Homo sapiens: one gene and its partner. The protein of the gene in region 1 purifies or fractionates together with the protein of each later gene. This does not show direct contact. Each region holds a gene or a part of one and is shown in the gene's direction. Other genes may lie near its edges. The genes, in order: SOX13 and MGME1.

Region 1 (3,819 bases):
GACTTTGCCTCTCAAACAAGCCCCCAAGGCATGCTGAAGCTGCTGGTCCTTATACTGCATTCCAACTAGTAGTGGTTTAACAAACACCAGATCATGTGATGTTATTTGGAAATGTGATAAACAAGGAAACAACAAAACACCAGATCGGTGCTTACTGGTGCCACAAACTATTCTAAGTACCATATAAATATCAACTCCTAGTCCTCACGGCCATCCTATAGTGTAGAGACTCTTACCATGCTCATTTTACAGATGAGGAAACTTGAAGTACAGAGCAGCTAAGCAACTTGCCCTAGGTCACTTGGCTAGTCAGTAGCTGAGGCAGGACCCATGCATAGCTGGAACCTGCTGTGTTCCCACTAGAACCCAGAGCGCATCTCTGTGACTTTGGAGGATAGGCATCTGCTGCTCCGCCCAAGCCTGGCATGACCCCTGGAAACCACTCCCTGAGATGCTGCGATTGCTCAGCTCCTCAGATGTCCCAGGCAGTGATGTGACAGGAAAGGAACAGCAGGTGCAGAGTCTCAAGAGGGTCTGCCAGGTATACCAGCTGCTTAAACTAGGAACTGCAAACTCAGATGCCTATGGTGGCCAGACTCTGAGAGATTCTAGCTAGATACCGGAAAATATTTTTCGTAAAGCCAATCATCTCAGTCTGTTATTCCCCCCACCCCCGCCCTTTATTTTTTTAAAGAGATGGGAGTCTCATTAGGTTGTCCAGACTGGCCTCAAACACCTGACCTCAAGTGATGTGCCTTCCTCAGCCTCTTGAGTAACTGGGATTACAGGCATGAACCACCATACCCGGCTATTTCCCCCCGTGTGATAGATGCATGAAGCAAGAAATCATTTACTTTTACCTTATCTCCACTGTAAGAAGAAGACTATATGTCTTATATATAGAAGAATATATGTCTTATATAGTTAATACTTGGTTTCCTTTTTGAGGAGTAGTAGGAGTGTAGAGGCTAAAGTAGACTGGCCTGTCCATAAGAAATACCCATTACTCAATTCCAGCCAATTTTTACCACAAAAACAATTGAGCTAGAAGTTCAAATCTAGATTTTTATGTGTTATCTCTTGATTTTTAAGTATTGGTAACTAATTATAAAAATGCATTTGTAGGCTGGGCGTGGTGGCTTACGCCTGTAATTCCAGCACTTTGGGAGGCTGAGGCGGGCAGATCACCTGAGGTCAGAAGTTGGAGACCAGCTTGGCCAACATGGCAAAACCCCATATCTACTAAAAATACAAATATTAGTTGGGGGTGGTGGCGTGTGCCTGTAATTCCAGCTACTCGGGAGGCTGAGGCAGGAGAATCACTTGAACCTGGGAGGCGGAGGTTGCAGTGAGCCGAGATCGTGCCCTTGCACTCCAGCCTAGGTGACAGAGTGAGACTCTGTCTCAAAAAAAAAAAAATGCATTTGTATACATACAAACATGCACAGACACATGCACACATGCGTGCACACACACACACACACACACACACACTTTCTCTCTCTCGCTGTCGCTCTCCAACTCTGTTGGGCTCAGAAACAGCCAGTCAGTATCTGGCCTCGTTAGTTGGGCCGTCAGTCCACTAGTCCCGTAGTCCCAAGCATTACACAGGCAGCTGCTGCGCAAGGGTAGGCCCACTCTTCTCTAGAACTTTTTGTTTAAAAAGCAAAAAACAAAACAAAAAAGCATGAGGGATACAAGAGGCTTTGCTGATTTTTCTGTGGGTTCACAAGTAAGCTTGCCCTTTCTGTGAGTGTGCCCATGTGACAGGCACCAGGAGGCACTTGGGTGGGGTCAGGGGAGCAAACAGTAGGGTCACTGCCTCTGGGCAGAAGTTTACGACTGGGGACTCACCTCAGCTCACTCTGTCCCTCCCCCAGGATGTCCATGAGGAGCCCCATCTCTGCCCAGCTGGCCCTGGATGGCGTTGGCACCATGGTGAACTGCACCATCAAGTCAGAGGAGAAGAAAGAGCCTTGCCACGAGGCCCCCCAGGGCTCAGCCACTGCCGCTGAACCTCAGCCTGGAGACCCAGCCCGGGCCTCCCAGGATAGTGCTGACCCCCAAGCTCCAGCCCAGGGGAATTTCAGGGGCTCCTGGGTCAGTGTCCCCGCCCTGCCTCCATCCTCACACCCATGCGCTGTACCTGGGCTCTCTGCTCGGCTGGGCAGGCCCACTCCCCTAGATGGCAGCAGATACAGGCAGAAGTGGTGATCCTAGGGGTAAGACGCCATGTAGGGAAGCAGGGAGGCACTGCCAAGTTCAGTCTGAGGCTGGAAGCGGGGTCACCTATCAGAGCAGGACCTAGACTCATGCCTGTACTTACTCGCTTGATAGTGACAGTTCACCTATGTGTGACCCAGTCCTTGCTTCTGAGGACTAGATGGGGAGATGGGACACACATGCTAAAGTTTGGCTTTAAAGTAATCTACCAGATTTTTCAGATGATTTGGGAAAATCAACCTGATTACACAAGCAAGAATTAGGTCACTGTTAAAGATGATACGGTTCTTGACCCTTAAAAAAACAAGAGAATTGAGCTGCATGATTCATAAGGATTCTTGCAGCTCCTAAAAATTCTGATTTCACATATGAGATGTAAAAAGGTGATATATAATTAAAATCCAAATAAGTGAAAATGAGGAGAGTTATGGGCTCTAAGAAAGAATCCAGCCTGGAGGAAGGAGGTGGGGGGTGGGGGCACTGGTGATCAAGGAAGGCTTCCTGGAGAAGTAGAGCCTCAAGCTAGGCCTTAAAGGATGGGGAGGACTTTGACGAGAAGAGGAGTGAGGCAGGCAGTGGGGAGTGTGAGTAACTTTTGCCAGCCCCTACCTGCTCCCCTATGCAGCCCAGCTGGTGTAGTGGGTATGTTCAAGGGAGTGATAACTAATAGCTGACTTTTGGCCCCTGATTGTAATGGCAAATCTCATTCACATGCATTAACTCCCTTGATCCCAGCAACAATCCTGTGACAGAGGAGGTATTAATATTTCCATTTTCAAAAGAGGGAAGTCAGGTTCAGAGCATTTCAGGGACTTGTGTGGGATCAAGCATCGTGTGAGTCACTGAGCCTGGACTGAAACCCAGGTCTTTTGTTTTGAAATCTTCTGTTCTTTTCCTAAACAAAGCTTGGGCAGGTGGAGGCCAAAGGGACCTAGTGAGTGGAGAAGTAGGACTTGGATAGGGCTGGGATCCCTCAGGGTACACATCTTTGGGGTGCCCAGCCCTCCCTGCAGCCTGTCCCCTTCTCTTGGGGGTTATGGTGACAATTCAGTATGTCTTGCAGGACTGTAGCTCTCCAGAGGGTAATGGGTCCCCAGAACCCAAGAGACCAGGAGTGTCGGAGGCTGCCTCTGGAAGCCAGGAGAAGCTGGACTTCAACCGAAATTTGAAAGAAGGTAGGATGTCTGCCCTAGTTAGAAGCAGAGGCCTGAGGCAGGGAGGTGTTAAGACGGTTATTCCTCACCCCTTTGCTGTCTTCCAGTGGTGCCAGCCATAGAGAAGCTGTTGTCCAGTGACTGGAAGGAGAGGTTTCTAGGAAGGAACTCTATGGAAGCCAAAGATGTCAAAGGTGAAGGCCTGTTGGGGGTGGGGGAGATGTTTGAACCCCATCTCTCTTCTCCTGGTCTGGCCACGCAGCCTGGCTCTGTAGGGCAGTTCTTGGTACATACCTATCCTGTGCCATCTGGCTCCTGCCTGGCCTTAGGGGTCATCACCATCCCTCGCCTGGAGGCCCCAAGCATTAGGTCTCACTCATCCCATGCAGGAGAGGCCTGGTAGGAATCAAATCCCATGACTCTGAATCTGGGCTCTCACCAG
Region 2 (3,122 bases), on another chromosome or scaffold:
TTCCTTGTTCCTTTCCCACTTAAAAAAGCACTTTTTGGCTGGGCACAGTGGCTCACGCACTTTGGGAGGCCGAGGCAGGCAGATTGCTTGTGCTCAGGAGTTTGAGTCCAGCCTGGGCAACATAGTGAAACCCCGTATCTACAAAAAAAATACAAAAATTAGCTGGACATGGTGGCGCACACTTGTGCCAGCTACTTGGGAGGCTGAGGTGGGAGGATTGCTTGAGCCCAGGAAGTGGAGGTTCCAGTGAGCCGAGATTGTACCACTGCACTCTAGCCTGGCCGACAGAGCAAAACCCTGTCTCAAAAATAAATAAATAGGCCAGGTGTGGTGGCCCAAGCCTATAATTCCAGCACTTTGGGAGGCCGAGTTGGGCAGATCACCTGATGTCAGGAGTTCAAGACCAGCTTGGCTGACATGGCGAAACCCTGTCTCTACTAAAAATACAAAAATTAGCTGGGCGTGGTGGTGTGTGCCTCTAGTCCCACCTACTTGGGAGGCTGAGGCAGGAGAATCGCTTGAACCCAGGAGGCGGAGGTTGCGGTGAGCCAAGGTTGTTCCACTGCACTCCAGCCTGGGCAACAGAGCAAGACTGTCTCTCTCCAAATAAATAAATAAATAAATAAATAAATAAATAGCACTTTTTGGCCAGGGGTGGTGGCTCATGCCTGTAATCCCAGCACTTTGAAGGAGGCCGAGGTGGGCAGATTGCTTGAGCCCAGGAGTTCAAGACCAGCCTGGGCAACGTGACAAAACTCCATCATTACTAAAAATAGAAAAATCAGCCGGAAGTGGTGCCCGCCTCAGCTTCGAGGGTGCAACGAGCCGAGATTGTGCCACTGCACTCCAGCCTGGACGATGGGAGTGGGATCCTGTCTCAAAAAAGAAAAAAAAAGCACTTTTCCACCCTCTTCTTGGGCCTTTTTTTTTTTTCAATGGCTCTGTAAGGATCACAGCCCAGTCTTCAATGTTTTATCTGTCATCTTTGTGTTCTTGTGTCCTGGTGCAGTCTTTGATCAACCTACCTTAGAAACTGAGTTAGGAGATATCCTGTAGATTATTTTATACTGAGTTTGCCCTGGAGTAAGAAGGAAACGAACCTAAACTCTGGACCTACTGTAGTGAAACGAGAATTGCCCTGTGTTTCTTCCTAGGTTCAATGTGGCTTAATTGTGGTGGCCTACAAAGATGGATCACCTGCCCACCCACATTTCATGGATGCAGAGCTCTGTTCCCAGTACTGGACCAAGTGGCTTCTTCGACTAGAAGAATATACGGAAAAGAAAAAGAACCAGAATATTCAGAAACCAGAATATTCAGAATAGGGAGCAAGTTGCTATTTGGGAACATTCAGCACCTTCTCACAGTTTGGGAACATATATTGCTGTTTACTCCAGTGTAAAAATGAGGTGCCACTGGATCTGAGTGCTACACGAACACAAGTAGAAGTATTAATTTGTTGAAATGTGTTGTTACCAAAAAGACTGAAAAGCCCCAAAGTCTAGATATAAAGACCTAGACTTCGGCACGCGAAATCCCAGCTATGCTACCTCTTATTTACCTGAAAGGAGGACACGCAGGATGGGCAGTCATGCTGGTGACTCTTGTACTCCCTTGAGGGACATTGGGGGGGGGGGGGCGTGGTCCCAGGCAGGATGCCCAGTCTTTGAGCTGAGATTGGAAGGCAGTGAGGCTGAGGGTGCCAAGATTTCCCCAGGGTTCACCCAGAGGGGAAGGGGCTACATGCCCCCAGCTGTGTGCAGGGAGGACACATCAGCCCACTACCGCTGCCAACACCAATGCCTAAAACTTGTTTCATACATTGGGGTTTTCTATATATTTCAGCTGGGAAAAGCTTACATTTAACCTTTTGAAAAAATAAATACGTGATTAGCCTCAACTAAACATTGCTGACTATAAAGACAGTATATTCACCATGTCGCTGGCAATATGTCATTGCGTAACACCAAATAACCCCCCAGAAGTAGCCAGAGGCCAGTTTGAACATCACAATTCTAAGTGTTTTAGTAACTATTTCTGGCGTGAGTCAACAGATCATGTAGATAGAGTCAATTATTGTTTGTGGAGTTTTTCAGCTATAGGGGAGGGGAACTATTAAAATCCATTTGTTTCTATTCAATAGGTAATAAAAATTAGTTGTCCCTGGGTTTGGGAAACTTAAATGCCCATTACAGCCCTGGGGAAGGGTTTTCTGTCTTATGGAGTGAGTCTTAGCATTTAAGTTATACAGTTGCTGCCTTAAAATAGTAGCCTGCTACAATGACTTCTTTGGGTAGCCATTTTCATAAGAAATAAAATACAAGATATGAGTAATGAAGCTTTGGTTTTGTTTACTTTGTGTGTTTATAGGATAATTTTATAAACCTGGAAATTGTTTGCACTTTTTTTATAATTCAGAATTTTACAAGCCCAATAGCTTTGGTGAGAGTTCTGTGTAAGTGCATAAAAGAAAGCGTCCTCGGCTGGGCGCAGTGGCTCACGCCTGAAATCCCAGCACTTTGGGAGGCCGAGGCGGGCGGATCACAAGGTCAGGAGATCGAGACCATCCTGGGTAACACGGTGAAACCCCGTCTCTACTAAAAATACAAAAAATTAGCTGGGCGTCGTGGCGGGCGCCTGTAGTCCCAGGTGCTCCGGAGGCTGAGGCAGGAGAATGGCGTATACCCGGAAGGCGGAGCTTGCAGTGAGCCGAGATCACGCCACTGCACTCCAGCCTGGGCGACAGAGCGAGACTCCGTTTAAAAAAAAAAAAAAAAAAAAGCCTCCTCACTAAGCCCTCAGCCACGGTCACCTAGCAAGGAAAGCAATATTCAGGTAGGAGATGGGAGGATCAAGGGGGACCTTTGTATTATCTCTATACACTTCTGCATTCATGTGGGTTTTTCTCAAGCTGCAGATACATATTTCTGTAGCCTGTAAATTCCAGTCAAAAATGAAGTGAGGCAATTAAAAGTTGTGCTAGCAGAGTTTGCCACTCTGCTCTAATAAGCCTCAACCTAGAATTTAGGAGGCTAGACCTAACAAAATTTCTTTTTATTTTTCTTTTTTTTTTTTTTTGAGACCATCTGGCTCTGTCAGCCAGGCTGGAGTGCGGTGGGCTC

The links.
Region 2: the proteins of SOX13 (region 1) and MGME1 purify together in Homo sapiens (affinity purification with mass spectrometry; one large-scale study listed by BioGRID and IntAct). This does not show direct contact.

The regions. Positions count from the first base shown.
Region 1 is NC_000001.11:204,111,035-204,114,853, forward strand, and holds part of SOX13 (transcription factor SOX-13), read left to right. Parts: intron 1-1,880; 5' UTR 1,881-1,881; coding exon 1,882-2,100; intron 2,101-3,286; coding exon 3,287-3,398; intron 3,399-3,484; coding exon 3,485-3,571; intron 3,572-3,819. UniProt on the Homo sapiens protein: Transcription factor that binds to DNA at the consensus sequence 5'-AACAAT-3'. Binds to the proximal promoter region of the myelin protein MPZ gene, and may thereby be involved in the differentiation of oligodendroglia in the developing spinal tube.
Region 2 is NC_000020.11:17,988,785-17,991,906, forward strand, and holds the end of MGME1 (mitochondrial genome maintenance exonuclease 1 isoform 2 precursor), read left to right. Parts: intron 1-1,154; coding exon 1,155-1,325; coding exon of another isoform or gene 1,326-1,402; 3' UTR 1,403-2,338; downstream 2,339-3,122. UniProt on the Homo sapiens protein: Metal-dependent single-stranded DNA (ssDNA) exonuclease involved in mitochondrial genome maintenance. Has preference for 5'-3' exonuclease activity but is also capable of endonuclease activity on linear substrates.